Homo sapiens: one gene and its partners. The protein of the gene in region 4 interacts with the protein of the main gene of each other region in a biochemical or structural test. Each region holds a gene or a part of one and is shown on either strand. Other genes may lie near its edges.

Region 1 (3,619 bases), on a different chromosome or scaffold from region 4:
GTGGCGCGATCTCGGCTCACAGCAACCTCTGCCTTCCAGGTTCAAGGAAATCTCATGCCTCAACATCCCGAGTAGCTGGGATTACAGGTGTGCACCACCATGCCCGGCTAATTTTTGTATTTTTAGTAGAGAGGGGGTTTTACCATGTTGGCCAGGCTTGTTTCAAACTCCTGACCTCTAGTGATCCACCCACCTCAGCCTCCCAAAGTGCTGGGATTACAGGTGTTAGCCACCATGCACAGCCGAGAACTTTCTTTTATTTGGACTCCTGATTTTAGAATACCATGGTTTCTTTTAAAAAAAAAAAAAAGTACGATTATTAACACTGATTAATAACACATGAACCAAACCCACTTAATATCATTATTAAAAACAGGCTGGGCACAGTGGCTTATGCCTGTAATCCCAGCACCTTCGGAGGCTGTGATGGGAGGATTGCTTGGGCCCAGGAGTTTGAGACCAGTCTAGGCAACATAGTGAGAGCTCTGTCTCTACAAAAAATACAAAAATTAGCCAGGTGTGGTGGTGAGCACTTGCAGACCAGCTACTTGGGAGGCTGAAGTGGGAGGACTGCTTGAGCCAAGGAGGTCCAGGCTGTAGTGAGTTGAGATTGTGCCATTGCACTCTAGCCTGGGCTCAAAACAAACCCCAAAAAACAAAACCAAACATCAATAGAACTACATAGGGACAACAGCAAATACAAATCTTTAAACACTTCATGATGTGGCCGGAATGAGTACAAGTATGCAATTCAATGATTCCAACATTTGATGGTGACTGTGAATTATTACATATTTATTACACATAAATGAGTTTAAATTTTATTTCCAAACTGCATGCAGGGACTTTATTATTACTATGAATTTTTTTTTGAGAGTTTCACTCGTTGCCCAGGCTGAAGTGCAATGGCGCAATCTCGGCTCACTGCAACCTCTACCTCCTGGGATCAAGTGATTCTCATCTCAGCCTCCTGAGTAGCTGGGATTACAGGTACCCACCACCACGCCCGGCTAATTTTTGGTATTTTTAGTAGAGACGGGGTTTCACCATGTTGGCCAGGCTGGTCTCAAACTCCTGACCTTGTGATTCGCCCACCTTGGCCTCCCAAAGTGCTGGGATTACAGGCGTGAGCCACCATGCCTGGCCAAAACCTTTGATTTTTAAAAAGGCGTTTCTTGAAGTACCTTATTAAACATTTGATTTGAAGGAAACTGTGCATGTCTAACATACTTGCCTTTTACAGAAAGCTGGCTAGCCAAAAATGTATCATCAACTATCGATTTTATTTTCAGAAGTGGACTGTCTCTTAAATGAGACAGCATAAAGTATGGACTTGTAGAAGCTGAACGAGTAAATCATGAGTGTAACTGATAACATGTAAGTCCATTCTTCGTATAAACTGCTAGAGAGTGTTTCAGACCATCACTGATGTCTGTGATAAAGAGCACCAAAGCATCACAGTCCAACTTTTTTTTTAAGCGCCAAGTTCAAACAAGTGACCAATAATAATGGTTGGTCCTTGAAGGTCTTTTACCAGAGGCCTTTTCTAATCACTTCGTAACACTTCTGAGATGTACATGGCTCCTGAAACTTGAAAACAAAGCCACAAAATGAACATTAACATTTCTTTAGGGGAAAATGCTATCTAATTTTCCCCTCGTTTGAATTAACCAAAAAAAAAAAAAAAGCCTATTTCTTTTACAAATCTTCTGAATAACGGGTTTTAAGAGCAGGCCAGGCGCGGTGGCTCACGCCTGTAATCACAGCACTTTGGGAAGCTGAGGTGGGCGGATCACGAGGTGAGGAGTTCGAGACCAGCCTGCCAGCCTGGCCAACATGATGAAGCCCTGTCTATATTAAAAATACAAAAAAAATCAGCCTGGTATGGTGGTGGTGCCTGTAATCCCAGCTACTCGGGAGGCTGAGGCAGGAGAATCGCTTGAACCCAGGAGGCGGAGGTTGCAGTGAGCCGAAATCACACCACTGCACTCCAGCCTGAGCGACAAGAGCAAGACTCTGTCTTAAGAAAAAAAAGAGCAAAGGACACACCACATCTGCATAAATCCAAGTGTGTTAAGGAACATAATCATGTTGATTGTATCCTGATTCTAGCAGGTGAAGGACTAAGCACTCAACTTGTATTTGGAGGAGAAGCAAGTGTCATGATGGAGCATGTCTTATATGGCAATTCAAAACAGTATGATTCTGATGCGAGTGAGAACTAAATGTTGGACAGGCTTTTTATACAAATCCCACCTGCATGATCCAGAACAATATTCTTACAGATTCAATGCAGACTCCACCAATGGGTTAGCTAGACATCAACAGGCTCACTTTCTTTTTTTCTTTTTTTTTTTTTGAGACAAGAGTTTCACTCTGTCTTGCAGGCTGGAGTGCAATGGTATGATCTCAGCTCACTGCAACCTCTGCCTCCTGGGTTCAAGCAATTCTCCTGCCTCAACCTCCCAAGTAGCTGGGATTGCAGGCGTCCACCCAGCACTCCTGGCTAATTTCTGTATTTTTAGTAGAGATGGAGTTTCACCATGTTGACCAGTCTGGTCTTGAACTCCTGACCTCAGGTAATCCACCCGCCTGGGCCTCCTAAAGTGCTGGGATTACAGGTGTGAGCCACCGCGCCTGGCCCATTTTCTTAATGTAAGTCCACAATATGTCATTAGGGGAGAATGACTTTGGCAAACTCATATGCTTCAAAGGCAGAAAGACATGTACTAAGAAGGCAGTTAGAGCTGGAAAATTCTTGACATAATTACAACTTTAGCAAGAGAATAAAAATAGATTTTAAAAGTGTGTGCATGTGGGGAGGTGACAGAATATCTTTATATGTACTTTAAGAAGCTGACGCGTTATCCAGACACAAAAGATAACATTCTCATCAAAACAGGCCAAGATGAAACACCAGGGGCACTCTTCACAGAAATTAAGTGGATGCTTCTGGCGCCAAATGTCTTTGCCTGGTTCTTCCTGGCATTTCTGCTTGACTCCTTCCCCCTGTATCATTCTCAAATCCCCAGCCTTTCCACTGGGCAAAGCCACTCTCTTCTCCCTCAGGCTCTGAAGAGATAACACAAATGTATGGACACTTTTTGTCCTTCAATTAAAAAACCTGCTGGAAGCTCCAGTGATGTTAAGAATTAACTGGTAGTTCTTTATCTTAGCTAGGCTTATGTATTCCAAATTTTGCCTGTTTTCTTGGAATTATATGAATTTCCTTATTAAACATTTGATTTGAAGGAAACTGTGCATGTCTATTAATTACCCATGAGGTACATGTGTATTTCTGAAATTTCTCCTTCAGTCTCACCTGAGTTTAATTTTTGCCTAAGATGTTTAGAGTTCCTGAGGTGCTTCTCTAGGCTAAAATTTAAAGATTTTTTTTTAAAAAAGCAAATAAAAGTAAATGAATGGCTAAAAGATAAGGTTAAATTTTCTAGGCTGGGCATGGTGGCTCACACCTATAATACTAACACTTTGAGAGGCTGAGGCGGGAGGATCACTTGAACCCAAAAGTTCGAGACCAGCCTGGGTAACATAGTGAGACCTCATCTCTACAAAAAAAATTTTTAAAACAGAATTAGCCGAGTATGGTGGCACATGCCTG
Region 2 (4,395 bases), on a different chromosome or scaffold from region 4:
TAGTGTATAGTAGGAGACCCTCTCCTAAAATGCTTGGATGTCAAAGATTTACATGGTTCAATGGAGGATGAACACATTGCCCCCTTATCTTGTCAGTGGACTGCCAAGAAATTTTGTGCCATATGAACTTAAGAGCTGAATAGAAGGGGGTAAAAGAATACCCCTGAGAAATTTAATCATCAGCCAGCCCTTCCTTTGATTTGCTGCCTAAACTCAGTATCATAGGGAAGTGAATGGATCTAGAAAGCTATCAGAAACTTTGTAAACACACCTGCAGGAGTCTCTACATGGTAAAAGGGAAGTCATTGTCACCATGTCAGAGAAGGGCTCATTGTCTTAGTCATTTAGGGGTATGCTTTTGAGTTTTACTCATTTCTCTCCTCCACATTGCTCCAGGAAGTCCATGAATTATGTCTAAACAAGTTTTAAGTTAAAAAGAAGACCACAGGGGGAATTCTAAAGTGTTTGGGATTGAGTAATAAGAATACCGCATATCAAACTCATGGACAGAGTAAAATGTGCATCTGTAAATATATTTATCAAAAAAGAAAGAATTTAAACACTTGGAAACTGAGCAAAGGAACAAACCCAAAAAGTCTAAAAGGAATTAAATGCATAAGGGCAGAAATGAATAATATATAGAAAAAAACATATATATATAAACTTTGAATGCAGATTAAATGGACAACTTAAACAATCAAAATAATTAAGTATCAAAGTTGATACAAGAAGAAATACATAATTTAATATACAGTAACTTTTTCATAAGTTGAAAAAGTATACAATCTATCGCTCATCTCCTTTTCTGGGATTTTGTCCCCTATGACATTGACACAACGCTAAACCAATAGCAGTAATCCTTTATTGTCATTACACTACCCTGCCTAAAATAAACAGCTTCTCTCAAAAAATATTCAGTACACATTCAGCTGTTGATGTCCAAGAATGCAGGGACTCAAGAACATTCATCCTGCCTTACTTCCACTTACAGATCTATCTCTCTTTCTCTTGGAGATGGAACCAAAATAGCCCAGTTTTTTCTGATATTTTCCACTAAATGATAAACTGACAAGTGCGCAAAAATGAAAATAAAGTGTAAGCCACCAGAGTATGTAGAATCTTTTTATTTAGGGCTTTTCTGGTGGAAAACCATAGTAGGACTGGTTTCTTCTACCTTCTTTTCTGAACATTTTTAAGACCCCATATGTATATCACAAAAATATTCTTCCACATGGAATCTGTGATGTAATATTTAAGAAAAAGAACACCTGTTTAATGGAACAGAATAAAGTGCTACCTTTTTTGGGAGGCAACCGGTTATCCATTTGCATACACGGCTGAAGTTGCTTCTCTTCTTGCTGAAGGGTTTTGCCTCCACCCACTGTGAGTGCAAAACACGTTGATGTCAGCATAATGTAGAGAGGCAACTGACCAAACACTACCCAGTACTCCTCTCTGATTTAAAACCGCTTCCAAGGATAACTTGCTCCATCACAGCAGTGCCCATTCACCTCCATTATGTGCTTCCCTTGATATTTATTTTACTTTTGTGATTGTTTTGGTTGATTAAAAATATATGGAAGACCTGAAAACTACAGAGAACAAACAAATAACCCTGCCAATCCAGAATTCTAAATCCGTGATAATATTCCTCCAAAGTGAGAAATGGAAAGAATTCATTGCCAGTAGACCTGCCCTGTAAGGAACACTAAAAGAAGCCTTTCAGGCAGAAGGAGATTGCTATAGGTCAGAAACTCGGCAGTATGAAAAGAAAGGAAGAATGTCAGAAAAGGAGTAAGCAAAGGTAAAACAAATTCCTTTTTTCCCCCTGTATCTTAATAGAGCTGGAAGATACTATCTGCTTATTGATAAGATCAACTCAAGCAGAGGCTAATCATTCGTTACACGTCCACATGCCCCTGTCCGTATCTTCAGTTTCCGTGGATAGAGCAGCCACTGATGCAAAGCTTTATGGCAGGAAGCTCAGTGGAGAATCAGAATGGAGCAGTCTCCTATCAGGCAACCCCTTACCATCAGAATTCAGCACCAATATGTGCTGGTCAGGTTAGACCTCAGGATTTTACCATATCAGATTATATGATACCTAGTGCCCCAAAGATACCAAAGTCCTGAGATTGGATTTGCAAAATATTTTTGAATAAGCAATTTGTCAACCATCATTATCACACATTGGAACCTCTTCTGGGGCTGCTGTTTATTTCAATACATATATACATACACACCAAATGCACACACAAACCACCCATACGTATGCACCACATACATACATACAACATAAACACATGGTACAAACTCCCCTTATGTTCTCCACACATACACTCCAGACACATAGCAAACCAAACATATAAATACGTTACAATACTGCATCCTCAAAACGGAAGTACAAACTACAAACACCACACACATAACCACACACACACATAAATGATGGGCACAGATGCACCAGGCGTACACAGTGTGCCACACACATTACAGACACAGCACACCACAGCTATACAAGCATCACACACTGTACAACACATACTTCTCTTTCCTTGTGTCCCTGTGAACCTCACACTGATTGCTAAAAATATGTTCTTTTTTCTCTTGTGAAAAGCCTCAGAAGATAGGGCATATTCCACCCCTCCCCACATTTTCCCCTATTGCTAAGTACTTTCAATAATATCTTTGCCAGGGAATGCCCCCTTACGGCCCTCTGGGGAATCAACTGATTGCTCATTTCATTTAATGAGCCCCGTAGACTAACCTGATTCGGGACAAAAAAGTGATTTCTTCTTCCGCTGTGAAGACTTTTCTCTCAACTTTACACAATATTGACTTTCTAGGATTACCAAGTTTAGCCCCATAAATCATTCACCAAATCTTTTGACATCACTGTGTCGAAGTTAAAAGCTTAATTTTTAACTTTACTGTTACCTTTTCCTTAAAGCTTCAGGGAAGGTGTGTGGGTCAAAATCATCCAGTGGACCAGAAACTGGGAATCTGCCAGTAATTTCATGGCATAATAAGCAGACACCCTTAGTCTCTCTCCCTGCCCAGGAGGTAGAGCTTGCCTGCCATAAGTGCTCTCAAGATTTCTCTATTAAGGATGGCTCTGAGTATACAATGCTGTTCTCACAGGAATGTTGTGGCTTTCTAAATGCCCCATAAATGCCATATTAAATTTTTACTCTTAATTCCCTTCCTTCCTTTCTTCCTCCTTTTCTTCCTTTTTTCTTTCTTTCTTCCTTCTCTTTCCCTTCTTCCTTCTCCCTCCTTCCTTGCTTTCCCTCCTTCCCTCACCCTGTCTCCTCCACACTCCTCTCTAAACAGTACATCTGTTTGACATTCAGCATACTCAGAAAGAGGTACATTTTATTGAGGCATGTCCTCTGGAAGGTGTGGCTTCTCTCATGGCTCTTCCTGCAATTACTGTAGGTTCTGGTTCATCCACTTGGTTATAGCAATATCCAGAAACATTAAAAAAAAAACATAGAGAGACAGGATCTCACACTGTCACCCAGGCTGGAGTGCTATGGTGCAATTATAGCTCAGTGCAGACTTGAACTCCTGAGCTCAAGGGATCCTTCCACTTCAGCCCCAAGTAGCTGGGATTACAGGTATGCAACACTGTACCCAGCTAATTGGTAGAGACAGGGTCTTGCTGTGTTGCCCAGGTTGATATCAAACTTCCTGCCACAAGCAATCCTTGTGCCTTGGCCTCCCAAGTGTTGGAATGACAGGCGTGAGCCGTCGTGCCTGGCCCCTAATACTTTTAACTTAGAACTCTTTGAAGGTAATCTACTAATTACTTAAAAATATCCAAGCACTAAAATCAGTGATTTTGCATTATAGGTAATTTATTTCATGCTTAACAAGTTTTTTTTTAATTTTTATCATGCTTTTAAAGTGCTCATTAAATGTTTGGCACATAGCAGATGCTCTGTAAATTCAACCAGTTATTTTTTTCCTCTAAAGAAATGTTGTAAATCTTTAACCCCTTTGCCCAGGAGACTTTGATGTTGTTATTCAGTTAGATTTTTTCTTTTTCAAAAGTCCAGATTCTGCTGGTCCTCTTCTGTGTGTTGCAGAATGTTTGTACTGTCCTGTTTCATGCTGGGCAATTTCTGGCATTTTCTGAAAGAGGAGCCCTTTTAGTGATTGAAACCCCTAGGTCAGCAGTTGTTCAAAGTCCATGTGTTAAATAATAACACTCCCATCTGCCATCAGTATCCCAGTTCTGGATACTGATTACCTGAAGGAGAACCATCTTTCTGTTTGCTGGCCCCAAAGCTTTCTGCTGCTCTGTGAGATTCTTTGAAATTGTTTCTTTTGGATTCTGTGTTTTATGTATTAAATTTTTAAATTTATCATTTTATTATGGAAATGTTTAAG
Region 3 (4,238 bases), on a different chromosome or scaffold from region 4:
TCTTTCAAAATTTTAAATTAATATTCTTTCTGTATTTTGTTTGACACATGGTCTCACTTTGTCATCCAGGCTGGAGTGTAGTGACTCAAATATGGCTCATTGTAGCCTCCACCTCCTAGGCTCAAGTGATCCTTCTGCCTCAGCCTCCTGAGTAGCTGGGACCACAGGTGTGCACCATCATACCCAGCAATTTTTTAAATGTTTTGTACAGGTCTCATGTTGCTCAGGCTGGTCTTGAACTCCTGGGTTCAAGCTATATTCCTGCCTCGGCCTCCTAAAATACTGGGATTACAGATATGAACCACCATGTTTGGCATCTCGGCATTAGGAATAAAACCTAACCATGGCCCGTAGAGCTCTCAATCACCCAACACTTGCCTACATCTATGCTCCAGTCACAGTAGCCTTCTTTCCTCTCTTGAAGGGCACCATGCTCTTTCTTGCCTCCTGGCCTTTGAACATGCGATTCCCTGGCCTCTCTAGTTACCTCCTACTGATCCTTCAGCTCTAAGTTTCAAGGTCACCTGCTGAGTCCTCTAACATCTAACCAAAATGCATTTCTCCTCTTAATCTTTCATAACACTTTACTCAACTTGTAAGTATACACCTATACACACACACTTACATGGAGCGAAAGGGAGAAGAGAGAAGATTTGTTTGCTTATTTATTATCTGTCTACCCCAGTAGACAATAAGCTCCATGGGTGCAGGGACATTCTCTGGTTCACTACTCAATCGTGAGGGCCTAGCACAGCACCTGGCAGACTCTGGACACTCAAAAGGTATTTGTTGAATAGAGACAACAGTCTCTTGTGCAATATGCAGTTTGCCTCATTATTCTTAGAATGTTTTCCCCCCTTAAAAAAACAAAAGTTAACCACTTCAATACCAATAAATTAGAGAGCTATTAGGTATACCCCTGCCTTACCAATAAAGCTTCCTCCTACTATTTTACCGGTTTCATTCATTAAGCACTTTCATGCATTCATCACCTGGCATCAGTTACCAAAACCGTGTACCCACTTAAGAAGAAGTATTTAAAGTCATTCAGAGTTCAATGGGCCTTTGGGAATCATCTAATTCTCAGCTGACAGAAGACAGAAAAGTAGGTTAACTGGTCTGCCCCTGTTACAGTTAGCAGCAGAGCTGTCATATGAAACCAAGTTCGATTTTGTTTAGTGCTTTTTCCAAAACCCATTTCTGGCTGGCCGCGGTGGCTCATGCCTGTAATCCTGGCACTTTGGGAGGCCGAGGTGGGAGGCCCACTTGAGGTCAGGGGTTCAAGACCAGCCTAACATGGTGAAGCCCCGTTTCTACTAAAAATACAAAAATTAGCCGGGCATGGTGGGGCATGGGTAATCCCAGCTACTTGGGAGGCTGAGGCAGGAGAATCGATTAAACCTGGGAGACAGAGGTTGCAGTGAGCCGAGACTGAGATCGCGCCATTGCACTCGAGCCTGGGCAACAAGAGCGAAACTCCGTCTCAAAACAAAAAAAGAAAACAAAACCCATTTCTGTCTGGTACTTTTTTTTTGAGACGGAGTTTCGCTCTTTTTGCCCAGGCTGGAGTGCAATGGTGCTATCTCGGCTCACCGCAACCTCCGCCTCCCAGGTTCAAGCGATTCTCCTGCTTCAGCCTCCCAAGTAGCTGGCATTACAGGCATGCGCCACCACCCTGGCTAATTTTGTATTTTTAGTAGACACGGGGTTTCTCCATGTTGGTCAGGCTGGTCTTGAACTCCCGATCTCAGGTGATCCACCCGCCAAGCCTCCCAAAGTGCTGGGATTACAGGCGTGAGCCACCGCGCCCGGCCTCTGTCTGGTACATTTTATCTGAAGCAACAGGAATTGACAGGAAAAATCACTGCTGTCCACAGACCCATACTTGCTCACTTCGGATATGTATTTTTAATGAAGTGCAACAACGTTACCCAGAATCAAAATTAAGCTGTTTCTACGTAAACATTGGGCAGGTAATACAACTGGAAATCAAAAATGTAAGTAGTTCGTTTGTAAGTTAGGGTTCCAGTAGTTAGCAAACTTGCCAAAGTCATCAAAAGTAGTGGTCTTCCTGTTGGGGAACTTTAGCAATAAGTAATTTTATTTTAGTAACAGCAGTAACTACCCCTCCCCCCAAAGAGGAAATTGGAAGACAGCACTGGGTGAAGAAAACAATTTTTTCACGTGTTGCTTTTAGACATAAAACCCTCAACATTTGGAAACTTCAGACTTCCATAATAAGGTTCTAAAGAGATTTCCTTGATCTTGATCCACGGTCCTCAAAGAAACACAAAAAAACTAACCCCCACCTAAGAACTGTTCTTAACCAAACAGGCAGGAACTTCTATGGGCTTTAGCAATCGCTTCTGAACCAGCGCGACAATACTCCTCTGACCTCGCGCAAGAAGGCCACCTTCTCCCTCCCAGAAGAGTCCCGGAGCAGAGCAAGGCACTCAGGGGGCATCTGCGCCGAGGTCGAGGCTCGCTGAAGGCCTTGCTGCCGCCTTGGGGAAAGCCCTCGCAGGCCCACCTGCCCCACCGCCGCCCCTGAGGCCCGGCCTGACTCCCCGCCGGCGCCCCCTCAGCTACCTTTCCGCCGGAAGAAGGACATGGCGGGGCCCGGGTCGGGACGGAGGGTGCGGGGGGACTGGCGCGGGGAGGGCCCGGCTCCCCTCATTCAGCAACCGGCCCGGACTTCCGGGTCCAGAGGGGCCGCTGCACTAGCGCGAAAAGGGACCCTTCTTCCGGGAGTGGGCCCCACCGCCTCCTCGGGATGCCCAGGCAGCTCCAGCCGCCATATTATCAACAAGCCGCCCGCCCGGAGTTCCGGTCCTTCCCCGCGCTAGGCTTCACGGGAGGTCAAGCGCCGGCCCCGCCCCTTTTCCCCATCCCCCTCCCGCGGGTGCAGGGGCGCACGCCCGCATCGCCCACGTGACCCGCGCGTGCTACCCGCGCCTCTTTCCCGGGCCCTGGGTGCCTGGAGCGAGCCACCGTTCCTGCAGCTGTTTTGTGGCGTCTGTCGCCGGCCCCCGGTGGAGCGCTGCAGACCCAGTCTCTGCAAAACTAACTCCCTGGGGCGGGAGCCCTCCCAGCAGCTGGAACGGGGCGGGCCTTAGGTCCCCGGCTTCCGGCCCCTGGGTACCCTTCAAATTGTGCCCTTCTAAAAGGCAGGGTCAACCCTGCCACGCTCCAGCTCGACCCCTCCTGCTCCTCCGTTTGAGTTTTGCTCACAGGCGCTGGCCGGCACGAGCAGCTTCACCCTGCACCCCAGTCCCTGCTTCCTCAGGAGAACCCGCCACGGCCTGCGGGTTCGAGGCGATGCAGAACCCTGATTAGGAAAAGGCACAACCTGCCGCATGCGGAACCAGCAGCTCCCTGGATCATTAGCGAATGAAAAGGGGAAGCGGGCTTATTTCGGAGTGCAGTCCCTGCGAATGCTCAACTTTGTAAGGGACTGCAACATAAAAGCCTCGCCAGTATTTAAAAGCTAGCTCCAGTGAATCATCCTTGCTCAAATGCCATTTTCCTGTGAATCTTCTGACCCTCTACTCCCAAAGCAAAATCAATCAAGCCTCCCTGTCTTTGGTGCTTCTTAACACCCGGCGAGTGCGCTCAGCGGCTGAGGTTGTAACTGCTCCCTGGGGTTGGGGTTGGGGAGGGCAGGAAGGTAATAGTAACTCAATAAATGTTCGCTGGGGTTTTTAAACCAATGAAGTTTATCATGTGACGGATGGGGAAACAGGCCCAGAAGAGACAACTAGCCCAAGATTGTTCAGAATGTTAGAAATACCAAAATTGTTAGAAATAGATAATCGGTGCCACGAAGAAAAGTCAGCACGGAGACAAAAGATCTCCAGCAAGGCAATCTTTACTTTCTGCAGAAAGGGTGCTCAATCGCAGATGGAACGATGTCGAGAGCACACCTGAACAAAGGAAAAGCAAACATATTTATCCCTTACGCATTTGGGTCGTCCTCACTGCTATGTCCTGCATCCATTGGCTGGAGCGGGACCTCACACTCTTAAACTGATAGCCGATTTGCTAATAGCCTAAAACTTTCTAAATAGGTAAGTGCAAGGAAGAACGAAGAAGGAGAGGAAGTTGCTTACCGAAAGGTTTAAGGAAGCAATAACATTTCCAAATAAGGAAGGGGCATAGGCTGTGAACTGGAACGTGCCTGTGAGCATGTCCAACAGTTACATAGGATAGGGCTTAACAAAGAGTTATTAGCACAAAGC
Region 4 (3,619 bases):
CCAGAGCTGCCCCGGAATAGGTGGGGCTTACTTGCAAAAGAAAATCCTTCAGATTACCAGGAGCACAGCCAAAAGAACAGACAGTACTGAGAAGGCCACTGAGGAGAATAGAGACAGGACAAGTTGTGAGAACACAACCAGAAAAAGAATGACATCCCCGTTTAGAAGACTTAGGGAAAGAATGCTTTCAAGGGAGAGACTAGTCAACAGCCAAAAAGAGGACACAGATCACAATCAAGCTACAGAAAGCTGTGAGAAAGTGAAGGATGTTGGAAGCAACATCAAAGATGAGAAAGGGAGTGCCATCTTCAATTCAAATAGCCAAGGCAACAGTAACACTTTAAACTGCTTCTATACGCGATTCAAGTCTAAAAGGAGGAAGACACTCTGATGAAGTTCCTTATTTAATTTTAGTGTTAAGTTTGTTTTCAGTTATTAATGTATACATGGCTTAAATTAAACCATTTGTCAAAGCTTAGGCAGACAACTTAGTAAAATACTATTTATAAACACTTGAAAATGCCTCATTTGTACATAAGTTATTTTACTGATGTATTGAGTTAGTAAATTTTATACTCTTGTTTTCTGTAGTTGACTTTATTTCCTACTGTTAGCTGGATCTGTGAGTGAAATATGTAGAGGAGGCTTTTTTATCTTCTACTTTTTACGTATCTTTGATTGGGGGAGAAGGGACTAGTCTAACATAGCAATATCAGAATCATCTGGGAAACTTGTTAAAAAATGCAATTACTGTGTCCCACCCCAGACTTCATAAACTTGAATTGCCAGAAATGGGATCTGGAATGTTTATTTTAATTGGCTTGCCAGGTGGTTCTTAGTATTATTATATTTGAGAAATACTGATCAAATAGACATAAGAATGAAATTATTTTTTAAACAATGAAGCAAGATTATTGTGTAGAGCAATGACTTTTTCTTTTCAAGAAGAAGGTTTTTATTTATTTTTAATTTACTTATTACATCCACTTTCTTGGTCCTCTTAAAAATTGACTAATCAGCTCATGGACATTGACAAATAGCAGTGATCCCAAGTTCAGAGATGTATGATAGACGTCAGAAGACTGGCTTGTCTTGGCTTACCCTGTTCCTGTCCACGTAGGCCAAATATAAATCACACATTTTCTAGGCCTTTTTCTCTTTGAAATAGTTAACGAAACGACTTAATAAGATTACTGTGCAACAAATTATTCCTTAAATGACTTGAGTTATATGTGAATAACTCCAAGATCCATAAACAGAGAAAGACTTGGAACTAAGGATGTTGTCATCCTCTTTCTGCATGAAGATGAGGCCCTGAGAATTCCAGTAACATACCCAAAGCCTGTAATTCTTCCTAATGACATTTCTAGGTATTGGTCCAAAGGTCACATATCTACTAAACCCTACTTTCCTCTGTGAGCAAGAAGATATTTTTTACTTCTTTGAGACCCGTCCCTTGTTGGGATTACTAGGGCATTTTCTTTTTCTTTTATTTCTAAACAAAAATTTGGTTTCTTCCAGTTATCAAAATAGATTATTATGTACATTAGCCATTCTGTTGCAGATTTGTTTTTGGGTCCTTCACCTCAGTGCGTCCCTAGAATACAGAAGAACATCTCTCTAGTTGTCTGCTGTGCAGTAAGTCACAGAACAACATAGAACATGTAGATGCTGTTTTTTTCTATAACACATTATTAAACATGTATCCACTCAGCTGTTTAATATTCTGCAAGGTTGGTGAAGAAAAAGGAAACTAAGTATGACACTAAGTTTAAACCTAAAACAATTTAAAAAACTGAAACAGGCTGGGCATGGTGGCTCATACCTGTAATCCCAGCAATTTGGTAGGCTGAGGCGGGAGGATCGCTTGAGGCCAGGAGTTGAAGACCAGCCTCGGCAACATAATGAGACCTCATTTCTGCAAAAAGTTTAAAAATAACTGGGTGTGGTGGTGCAGACCGTAGTCCCAGCTACTTGGGGCTGAGGCAAGAGGACCACTTGAGCCCAGGAGTTCGAAGCTGCAGTGAGCTATGATCGTGCCATTGCACTATAGCCTGGCAACAGAGCAGGACCCTGTGTCTAAAAAATAAAAATAATCTAAAACAGTGACTCTCAACTCAAGACAAGACTTCTTAGGTGGGATATGCAGAATATATGGGGTAAGTATATATAGTTTGATAAAGCAAAAATGTAGTTCTTTCCCTTGAGTCCTGGACTCCCACCCCTACCCTTACTTCAAGATGGTATTTGGGATTCAGATCAGGTCAAGAAATATTCATATTAATCAAAGGAAGGAGCGTTGGGTTAAAAAGAAGTTGAGAAACCCTAAAGACATGTACTTATTAATATTTGTAATCTTCTTATTTTATTAAATGATTATAGCTGTGGGAGAGCCTGAGAAAGATATACCTTTAAACTAGTTTTCTGAGTAACACTGGACTTTGACTGTCTTTTTCTTGAATGTGTAGTTGTATTGGTGTGGTGTGGATAGTAGGCAAATGGTTATGTAGGGGAATGTGTGGAGAAAATTGGCACCATTATATCTACATAGATGGAAACTAAAATTGCTTCTACTTTGTCTTCTGTTATTTTTGTGGGGTTTTTTTTTTTCATCCTTTCCCCTACTACCCCCACCATATGTTCCCTTTTTTTGTAGTTTGATCAGTGCTCTTTTCTTGTTCAGGTTACACACTTATTCCATCAGCTAAATCTGACAACTTGTCTGACTCCAGCCATAGTGAGATTTCTTCACGGTCCAGCATCGTGAGCAATTGTTCTGTTGACTCCATGTCTGCAGCTCTACAGGATGAACGGTGTTCCTCTCAGGCCCTGGCAGTCCCTGAATCCACTGGGGCATTGGAAAAGACAGAGCACGCTTCAGGGATAGGAGATCATAGTCAACATGGCCCTGGGTAAGCATCATTGTCTGTGTTCATAACACAAAACCCAAGCCAAGTGGCCACTGCAAGGAGTGCTCCCCACCTTGACCTTGGACCTCCCATGGGGTAATTGCAGAGTTATCCATAAAAGAATATGTGGGCCAAGCACATATTCTCTATTCTGAATATGTAAATAAGCACTATGTTGAAAGATGTATGGGTGTTCATTTTTAAAGTGTTACTAAATTCAAGTAACTTTTTATCATTATGTATCTTTCCAGTCAGAACTCAAAGTGCATCTGCTACTTATATAGGGGAGATAATTTTTGAAATTCTGGCTATAGGTTAATCAAAAAGGTTGTGTTTTGGAAAGTGCCTCGAGTGCTGTGCACATTGTAGACAGGTTGGGAGAGTAGGACTAGCCCTTGATCTCTGTCCTCTGAAAGTGTAATTTGGGGAGTAAGAATAATCACCTAGCAAAGGTTAATTAAAAAAAAAAATCAACTCTAAATTTCTATTTAGAATCAAGCAACGTGGAAATCTTTGAGAAAGTTTATTCTAACTGATAAATATTGTGAAATCTGGTCTACTTTAATATGAAAAATTTAAGATAAATTATTACCACATTTATAAAGATTTCTAAACTAGGATCTCTACACCAGAGGTCAGCAAATGTTTTCTATAAAAGTTACATAGTAAACATTTTAGACTTCACAGGCCATAAGGCCTCTGTCACAACT

The links. The genes of interacting proteins can lie anywhere in the genome.
Region 1: the proteins of RAPGEF6 (region 4) and GJC1 interact in a test that uses a peptide from one of them, tested with the Homo sapiens proteins (one large-scale study listed by IntAct).
Region 2: the proteins of RAPGEF6 (region 4) and SLC17A1 interact in a test that uses a peptide from one of them, tested with the Homo sapiens proteins (one large-scale study listed by IntAct).
Region 3: the proteins of RAPGEF6 (region 4) and AKAP10 interact in a test that uses a peptide from one of them, tested with the Homo sapiens proteins (one large-scale study listed by IntAct).

What each region holds. Positions count from the first base shown.
Region 1 is NC_000017.11:44,799,262-44,802,880, forward strand, and holds part of GJC1 (gap junction gamma-1 protein), read right to left. Parts: 3' UTR 1-3,619. UniProt on the Homo sapiens protein: One gap junction consists of a cluster of closely packed pairs of transmembrane channels, the connexons, through which materials of low MW diffuse from one cell to a neighboring cell.
Region 2 is NC_000006.12:25,829,227-25,833,621, forward strand, and holds the start of SLC17A1 (sodium-dependent phosphate transport protein 1), read right to left. Parts: upstream 2,827-4,395; 5' UTR 2,768-2,826; intron 1,382-2,767; 5' UTR 1,332-1,381; coding exon 1,298-1,331; intron 1-1,297. UniProt on the Homo sapiens protein: Important for the resorption of phosphate by the kidney. May be involved in actively transporting phosphate into cells via Na(+) cotransport in the renal brush border membrane. Plays a role in urate transport in the kidney.
Region 3 is NC_000017.11:19,975,003-19,979,240, forward strand, and holds the start of AKAP10 (A-kinase anchor protein 10, mitochondrial isoform 1 precursor), read right to left. Parts: upstream 2,827-4,238; 5' UTR 2,678-2,826; coding exon 2,590-2,677; intron 1-2,589. UniProt on the Homo sapiens protein: Differentially targeted protein that binds to type I and II regulatory subunits of protein kinase A and anchors them to the mitochondria or the plasma membrane.
Region 4 is NC_000005.10:131,432,723-131,436,341, reverse strand, and holds part of RAPGEF6 (rap guanine nucleotide exchange factor 6), read left to right. Parts: coding exon of another isoform or gene 1-391; exon of another isoform or gene 392-581; intron 582-2,683; coding exon 2,684-2,912; intron 2,913-3,619. UniProt on the Homo sapiens protein: Guanine nucleotide exchange factor (GEF) for Rap1A, Rap2A and M-Ras GTPases. Does not interact with cAMP.